2 linked regions of the Homo sapiens genome follow. The protein of the gene in region 1 purifies or fractionates together with the protein of each later gene. This does not show direct contact. Each region holds a gene or a part of one and is shown on either strand. Other genes may lie near its edges.

Region 1 (5,335 bases):
AGAGGAAGCCTGTGTGGTGGTTAGAAGCGTGGGTGCTGGGGTTCAAATCCCAGCTCTGTTGCCGACCAGCTGTGTAGCTTTGGGCAAGTGACTGAACTTTTCTGTGCCTCAGTTTCCTCATCTGTAAAAGTGGCCGGGGTTGCTGTGAGGATAAATGTTCCCGGTCACCCCCAGAGCCCTCATGGACACACATGGATCCAAATGCCACAGCAGCCTTAGCTGGCCAACTTAAAACAACACATTTGTGCTTACAGTGTTGGAGGTCAGAAGGCTAAAATCAAAGTGTCATGAAAGGTGGCCAGCAGGACCGTGGAGCCTCTGAGGCAACAGGGCACTTTGGCTAAGGGCCACGTACTGGCTCCAGCTGGCAGGCAGTCTCGGCCAGCCAGGCTGAGCTCCCTACTCCTGGGGCCAGGCCTTGGTGTCCTCTGGTGATGCTGAGTCCAGAATGAGGCTGCCCACATTCTGGTCCGCAGGGCTCAGCTCTGCTTTGACTTCCAGGTAGGAAGAAGAGGGAAAGTCCCCGGTCTCTGGGCACAACCAGGAACAGAGAGCAAGTTCTGACTCAGCAGAGGGATTGATTTGTTCCATGCAAAGAGCTGCACTGTCAAGGCCGACATGGGCCAGAGGCTCAGCACATGGCATCGCACCCCGTCCTCTCAGAACGCTGCCAGCCAGGGACTCAGCACATGGCATTCCACCCAGTCCTCTCCAGAATGCTGCCAGCCAGGGACTCAGCACACAGCATTGCACCCAGTCCTCTCCAGAACACTGTCGGGTGGTGTTACTGCCCTGCCATTCAGAGGAGGGAAGTGGGGCACAGGCAGGTCAAGTGACTTGGCCAGTGTCAGAATTGCTAGTGTACAGAGCTGGGAGGCGAGCCCAGGCCCATGGGACCACAAATCCAACACAAAAATCCATCCTCCTGCACCCTACGGAGCAAAAGTAGGTCCAGTTGTTTTCCTGGGTTTCCTGGACACACGGATCTAAATTCCACAGCAGCCTTGGCTGGCCAATCTTAAAACAACAAATTTGCTTTCTTAATGATTCTGGAGGGCAGATGTTAAAATCATCGTGTGAGCAAGGTTGTTTCCTTCCGGAGGCTCCAGGGGAGAATCTGTTTCTTTTGCTTTTCCAGCTTCTAGAGGCTGCCTGCCTGCCTTGGCTTATGACCCCTCCTGCCATCTTTAAAACCAGCAGCTTTGTCTGGGTGCAGTGGCTCATGCCTGTAATCCCAGCACTTTGGGAAGCTGAGGCAGGAGGATCTCTTTAGCCCAGGAGTTGGAGACCAGCCTGGGCAACAAACTGAGACTGTGTCTCTACAAAGAATAGACAAAAATTAGCCAGGCATGGTGGTGCATGCCTGTAGTCCCAGCTACCTGGGAGGCTGAGGTGGGAGGATCGCGTGAGCCTGGGGAAGTGGAGGCTGCAGTGAGCTGAGATCATGCCACTGCACTCCAGCCTGGGTGACAGAATGAGATCCTGTCTCAAAAAAAAAAAAAAAAAAAAAACACAACAAACAAACAAACAAAACCCCCAAAACCAGCTTCTTGCTTCTGTTGTCACATCTCTTACCTCTGACTTTGATCCTCCTGCTCCCTTTTATAGGACCTTTGTGATTACATTGGGACCACCTGTATAATCCAAGACAATCTCCCCATGCCAAAATTATGCATTTAATCACATCTGCAAAGTCCCTTCTACAACATATTCACAGTTTCCGGGGATTCGAATGTGGATGTTTCTGGGGGGTCGCCCACTGATAACCAGTATTATAAGTTTCTTGTAAATCCTTCCAGAGATATTTTATCTATAAATAAATAAATGCAAGTCCATAGCCTTCCCCTACCCACTTTTTATGCAAATGGCATTATTCCATATCGGTGCTCAGAGTTTTCCTCTTTTTCTTTTTTCTTTTCCGTCTTCTTTTTCTTTTCTTTTGAAAGCTACACAGAACTTATTCTATTATATGGAAATACCCTAATTTATTTCACCTTTTCCCTGTTGGAAGACTTTTAGGCTCCTTCCAATGCTTTGCTTTATAATCCTTTGTGTTATAATGCTGCAATGAATAACCTTGTTTGTTGGATGATATTCAATTTAAAATCTCATTTTTCAGGACAGGCATAGTGGTTCATGTCTGAAATCCCGGCCCTTTGGGAGGCCAAGACAGAAGGATCACTTGAGCCCAGGTGTTCAAGACCAGCCCTGGCAACATATCGAGACCTGGTCTTTTCAAAAAAATTTGAAAATTAGTGGGGTATGGCTTGGTGGCCTGCACTTATTTGGTCTCAGCTGCTCGGGAGGCTGAGGTGGGAGGATTACTTGAGCACAGGAGGTGGAGGCTGCAGTGATCCATGATCACACTCCTCACTGCACTCCAGCCTGGGCAACAGAGTGAGAACCCATCTCAAAATAAAATAAAATAAAATAAATAATAAAATAATCTTGTTTTTCAGAAATTGGGGGTGCCATTTAAGACATTTTGAAACCTCACAGAACTTTTTTGGGGAACTTGTTGCCTTGGAGATTAGCCTGCCCTGTCCTGCCCCCATGACCTGTACTTGGTCTTTCTCCCTCCTGGCTTCCTTAGTTAAGCCTTGTGTGGACTTGCGAGCCCATGTCCATCACTCTCTGCCTTCAATTCTAGGTGCTGTGGTGTGAATACGCTTGAGTGGAGGCCGCATGCTTCCCAGGAGGGTGTGTATTTTCAGCGTTGTCTCTCATGATAGAATGAAAGGCTCTGGAGGGAATCACAGGCTGCCACAAACAGGCAAGGGGAAAAATCTTCCACAGACGTGTTTCAGGGACAACAGGCTTCCCAATCCTAGCCCATGCTGGCCCATAACTGGATCAGGCTGACTCTCCTTCCCCCACACCGCTGGTGTAGACAGGGACAAGAAAGAGAAGTCAGAGACACAGAGAAGCTGTGATTTGCTTGAGGTCACCAAAGTATTTAATGGCAGAGTTCAGACCTGACCTGAGGGGCAAGAAAAGACAACCCCCTCAAATCCATGGGGAGCAGAGACTATCTGGATCAGATCTCAGATTGCCTGGGGCTTTCACGGTGCCAGGTGTGTACACTGAGCTAGGATGGGTTTCCCAGGGTGCTGTGTGGTCACATAACTCAACAATACAGACCAGAAAGCAGTGACCAGTAGGCTGAATTTGGCTAGTGGGTGTTTTCTGTTTGGCCTACACAGTGTTTACTTTAACTTGTTATTATAGGAAATTCAAACATGCAGAGAGAATTGTACCATCAACAACACACACCCATCACTCTGCTCCAACAATGATCAACTCAGGCCTATCTTGCTTCATCCTGTACCCTCCCTCGCTTGCTTCTCTTCCCACCTTCAGATATGCGGAAGCAAATCCAGAGATTTCATTCCATTGTAAATATTTCATTGTGTATCTCTACAATGTGGGAATTTGGGGAGTTTCATTTGAGACAGGGTCTCGCTTTGTTGCCCAGGCTGGAGTGCAGTGGTGCAATCGTGGCTCACTACAGCCTCGACCTCCCAGGCTCAAGTGATCCTCCCACCTCAGCCTCCCAAGTAACTGGGGTTAAAGGTGTGCACCACCACATCTGGCCAATTTTTTTATTTTTTGTAGAGATGGGGGTCCCACTATGTTGCCCAGGCTGGCCTAAAACTCCTGGGCTCAAGTGATTGTTTTACCTCAGCCTCCCAAAATGCTGGGATTATAGATGTGAGCCACTGTGCCCAGTCAGGAACTTTTACATAATCCTTTTTGACAAAAGATTTCCCCCAAGAAATTAGAAAGTTTTACAAAAAAAAAAAAAAAAAAAAATTCAGGTTTCTGTCTCATCTTAAAAATTTGGAAGTTCTGCCAATACTAAGCCCAGATGGTAATCATTGGTTAGTGCTGAGAAGATGTTGACTTTTTAGATGAGGCGTGTGACGTCTACTTTGCCACAGTCCCCACCACTCCCTACCTGGCCATCTGACTCATACACATCACCTGCCTGGCTTCTTTAGGCATTTAATTTGTGTAGGAAATTGACCTAAAGGAGATATTAGAGAAGACATTAAAAACTTGAAGAATGTGAAAATCAGCCATGAGATAGAACTGTGCTTTAATGCAGGTTATAGAACCACACCGGATATGAGGCATTTCGGAATAAACTTTGAAGATTGGAAGTACCAGTTTGTGAATTTTGCTCAGAGAGACCAAGGTGGGGGTGGGTGACAGTGGTGAAGCGTCTCCTCTGTGCCAGTCTCTTCTACCACAGGCTTTTTCTCACAAAATCATCAATCATATGCAGTAGGAGAAACACCTTCCTATTTTACAGATGAGGAAACTGAGGCAAAGAGAGGTGAAATAGGCTTCCCAAGGCCACTCAGGTCAGGAGCAGCAGAGTTAGGATTCAGACCTGGAGTCCGCCTGACTCCAAAACGATGCATGCCTCACCATGGCCCATAGCTCCTTTAAAGAGGCGCGGAAGAGAGAATTTGACAAAGTGCTTGCCCACGGGGCCTGGGATGGGTGGGGAAACTACGCTGGGGCTCGGGGCTGCGGAGGGCATCTGGGAAGAGGCTCTGCTGAAGGTGGTCAGGAGGGCAAAGGTCATGGTGGCCATTGTTATATGGTGGTGGTGGGGAGAGGTGCATGCCTTCTTCTTGACACTCTCTGGTGACCCTCTCGGTGGAACCTGCAGACCCTTGATGGGTCCCTTTGTTCCCTTGGGCCTCCTGAGTCCCCAGCCAGGGCGCTGGGCACTTTGCTGGGAGCTTGGCATGGGGTCCAGCAGCCCCATTGCTACCTAGTTCCTTACCAGCCCAGGGCGTCTGCCTGCTACTTCCCTGCCTGGAAGGAAGGCCTTCCGCCTGGAGCGTTCCTGGTGTGGCCTCCGCTGCCTCTCAGACTCTCACACAAGCTCAGCTCCCTGTCGCGTCCTCTCAGGGCCAGGATTCTCCTTATCACAAGCTTAGACTGTCTGAGTAACTAATTGGATTTGTGTCTGCCTCCACACAGGACCCTAAGACCCGTGGGGCTGAGACTCCTTCTGTCCTGGTCACAGCTGCACCCTAGCCCCTCGCATGGTGCGGTCACACCCAGGCCAGCCACTGACTAGCCCCGAAGGGGAGCAAACAGGAGGCCGGCCACCTGACTGAGGCCCCATGTCTTCTCCCTGCAGGCCGTCCCCTTTTCTGGGACTATCCAAGGGGGTCTCCAGGACGGATTTCAGATCACTGTCAATGGGGCCGTTCTCAGCTCCAGTGGAACCAGGTGTGTGTATATGGATGGAAACGTTTCACTCCAGCCTCGTCCCTTAGTAAAGCCACTGTGCCTGTGAGCCTCGGTTAGTTCA
Region 2 (4,135 bases), on another chromosome or scaffold:
AATGTGGAGATCTCGATGTATAACAGTCTCCCATTCTCCTCATCCCTTATTGACTGCTGGGCAGTAGCTAACAGAGTAGTTGTCAAGTGGCGTATTTGAGGTGAGGGGGAGGGACGGGGAAGGTAGGAAAATGCACTTAATGTATATACATGTTTTTACTACTACATTGTATTAATTCATCGGGTGCCCAGACTGAAAGGTACCTAATGAACCATGGAGTTCCGGATGTATAACAGTCTCCTCTTTTCCCTTTCCCTTATTGCCCATGTGGGCAATACTTAAGAGTAGTTTGGGTTTATTGAAGATTTTTTGCTAGGAGAGAGAAAATTTTTTGCTAGGAGAGGTTTCAAGGTAAGAGTATATACTTTAAACATGTATATAAATGTTTTTGCTACTTTTCTGTCACTACCTTTCTTACCTTGTCCTTTACATGGATATATGAAGAAAATTGAGGTTCAGCCTGTAGCAGCTCTCCTCTTCTGCCCTTCCCTTAGATTGTCTGTGTGGGCAGGTGTCTAAGAGAGTAGTTGATTAGCTTCAGGGATTCTTTGGTGGGTGTTGGGGTATATACTTTTGTATATGTATGTACATATTTTTATTTCTTTATTATAGTGTTTCATTGGGTACCCGGTCCTTCACTTGGATGTGTAGGTTCCTAATGAGCCATGGAGTTATGGATGTATAACAATCTGTTCTCCCTTTACCCTTTTAATGTATATGGGCAATAATTTTAAAGTAGTTTGGATTTTTTTAAGTTTTGAGGGGTGGGAGGGGTCTAAGGCAGAATATATCCTTTTTAAAAATGTATATATACTTTTCATTAACTATATTGTATTATTTCATGCTGTACCCAGTCCATTGCTTGGACTTACGGGTACCTAATGAAACGTGGAGGTCCGGATGTATGAAAATCTCCTCTTTTCCCCTTTCCTTATTGCCTCTGTAGGCAATAATTATAGAGTAGTATAGATGGTTTTTCTTTTTTATCCATCTGCCTATCTCCAGGAGGATGGGGTGTGCACTTTTAGAAATGTATATAAATGTTCTTGCTCCTTTTTCCTGTTACTTCATTGTGTGCCAAGGCCTTTCCATGGATACTTAGGTACGTAATGAAAATTGAGGTTCATTCTATGAAAAAATCTCCCCTTCTCCCCTTCCCTTATTGCCTGTCTTGGCAATGGCCAGTAGAGTAGTTATTTAAGGGATTTTGTTTTTTTGTTTTTTTGTTTTTTTTTTGGTAGGGGAGGTGGGGAATTTCTGGGTTTGTCTTTTTTTTAATGTATATAAAAGTTTGCTAGTTGTTGTTATTGTTGTTCTTTCACTCTCAACACAGTTTTTTGTTTGGAGTTGTAGGAATCAAATGTAATGAGGGACCCAGACCCGAGAGTGTGGTAAATATTCTTTGCCTTCCTCAGAGCCTGTATACACAAGCAAGTAGTATGTGAGCACTACAGGGCTTGGGTTTTGGTTTTTTGCTTTTGAGGGTTTTAATGAGGAGTGGGATTGTTGAGAGGAAAAGGCAAGATATATAATTTTTTTAATGTATATAAATGTTTTGCTCCTTTTTGATGTTAACTTCATTTTGAATCTGGTCCTTTGTATGACCACTTAGGTACTTAATAGTAATAAAGTTGAGATTGACTCTATGAAAAATATCCCATACTCCCCATCCCTCATTGCCTAGGGGGCAATGGTAGAATAGATGTTTGGTTTCTTTTGGGGGTGTCTGAGTGTATATGTGTGTGTATATACACACAAGAACACACATATTTATATACTATACACACACATTTTAATGTATATAAATATTTGCTACATTCTGTGTGTTATATAATGTGGTACCCAGTCCTCTGCTGGGACATGGATGTACATAATGAAACATGGAGGTCCAGACGTATGATAACTCTCCTGTTTCCCTTCCCTCATTGCCTACAGGGGCAATAGTTTCATATCTTGGGTTTTTTATTGTTTAATTTTTTTTTATGGGGAGGGGTTCTTTGGGTGGGTAATAGTCAGGGGGAAAGGACAGTGTCTATACTTTTTAAAGATGTATATAAATGTTTCATGTTATTGGTTTTGTACCTAGTCCTTTGCATGGATATATAGGTACCTAATGAAAATCGAGGATCAGTGTATGACAAATCTCCCATCCTCCCCTTTCCTTATTGCCTGTGTCGGCAATAGGAAGTAGAATAGTTGTGTGTTGTTTACTTACTTGTCTGTTTTAGAGAGATTTCTATTTTTGGTAGGGGAATATTCTTAATATGTTTTCATATCTTTATTTCATTTTGTAGTCTTTTGCATGGCTATGTAGGGACCTAATGAAAGTCGAGTTTCATAATATGACAGCTCACTTCTTTTCCTACATATTTCCTCACTTAGCAGTAGCTAGTGTAGTTATTTTGTGGTTATTTTATTTCATTCTCTAGGATCTATTCCATTAAGGATGCAAGTGTGTAGATGCATATATATCATTTGCTTCTTTCTTCCGCCATTATTTTCCTTTAACACTTAGTCCCTTGCAAGGGGTCTGACTATACCTAACAAAAATAAAGACCTACTAAATCCCTGCCATCTGGCTGGAAGGTGTAGCAGTGTATTAATGTAACTAATAGCAACAGGTGTGCAGCAGATAAGACAGGAGAAGACACTCAGCTATGGTTGAGTTGTGAAAGCTAATTAGATCCAGCATTTCTTATGTTGATTCAGATTGAATGAGGTAGTGAAAAGGGACCTGTGCTTTTGTAAATTCTAGAAAGGCAAGAGGACAATATTGAATAAAGCTGTGTTTAAACTTCATTGCTCATATATCTTTTAGTAACTGGTAAACCGGCGAAGCTGATAAGCCAATAAGAGTGCTGTCTAGAACGCATTTGCAAACCGTTAAGAGTAGCTTCTTTTTGAGGCCTGGACTTCTGATTCATCTATAGAAGTCTATTATGATTCCATCAATTGCATAGCTTGTGTACCTGGTAGAAATTGTGTCTTGGAATGACCCTTTCGAGTTATTGACATGGCTCTGATGAATAGAACATGAGCCCCAAAACTAAATCCAAAAGGAATTTTCTATCTTTCATCCCCCACATGTGGCAAGACAAGTTGGCCCTTTCTTACCCAGAGGTCTTTTGTGTGACTGCATCTTTCTCCTCCGTTCTCCATTGTGTGCTTTCCATTTTGTCTTTAGTGCCTATACTGTTAGGTGTTTTCTTCACTGGCATTCACAAATTTAAGCCATTGCTGCCTCATTAGCCTTGTATTTTGTGTGCATATCATGTATCCAGACCTGTATGTTCGCTTTAAGCATTCTTATATCACACTGTCTCCTCATCTACCATATGGTAAATGTTAAAACTCCACATTTGTCTGCATCAGGGAAAATGCATGGGCACACATCCTCCCTCCCTCCCTCTCTGCTCTCCTCCCTTCCTTCAGGCCTCTTAGCATTGTTTGTTTTCCCATTTCTGATACTACTACTCCATGCTGAAGATTTGCCATATTACTATTTTGGAAACATTGAGTGATAGAACTCCTAGAAAATTTGCAAAGAAATGTTACATACTGTATATCAAACTCTCAGATTCTAGTGTTGAAAAAGTAGCCTATACTTTGCTATTACTTATACCTGCTGCCATAGAAAAAAATAAGTTTATTCATGACACATTTACATTTGATCATAAATAAAAGAAAAAAGGGCACCTTTTTGGAGTTAGTCATGGTAGTCATTAGTGATATTTCTGAACAGTTCTTAATTTAAAATACTTCAAAGGAAGTAAAGGTCATGGCTTAGCTGAAGGAAATGCTCCAGAAATTGGACTGTGTAAACCATCAGTACAATAATACGCTGTGTATGTATGTGTATATAAAATGAGAATTATGGCATAATTGGAGCATTTGCATTAATCAACAAACTCACATTGAGACAAAACTTAGTTTTACAGCTGTCTTGATTAAAGCCAAGTGTTCCATGTTGCTGTGAAGAATAGCCTCTTTCAAATACTTTGGAAAGTAGTTACTTGGAAACTTGTAAAGGTATTACATTTTTATATTTAAACACCTATAGAGATCTTCAATTCCTTGAGTCTGAGCTTGTGGGTGGAATTCTAAATTTGTATCATAATCTGTCTTTTGTGAAACA

The links.
Region 2: the proteins of LGALS9B (region 1) and LNPEP purify together in Homo sapiens (affinity purification with mass spectrometry; one large-scale study listed by BioGRID and IntAct). This does not show direct contact.

The regions. Positions count from the first base shown.
Region 1 is NC_000017.11:20,460,270-20,465,604, reverse strand, and holds part of LGALS9B (galectin-9B), read left to right. Parts: intron 1-5,161; coding exon 5,162-5,253; intron 5,254-5,335.
Region 2 is NC_000005.10:97,033,188-97,037,322, forward strand, and holds part of LNPEP (leucyl-cystinyl aminopeptidase), read left to right. Parts: 3' UTR 1-4,135. UniProt on the Homo sapiens protein: Release of an N-terminal amino acid, cleaves before cysteine, leucine as well as other amino acids. Degrades peptide hormones such as oxytocin, vasopressin and angiotensin III, and plays a role in maintaining homeostasis during pregnancy.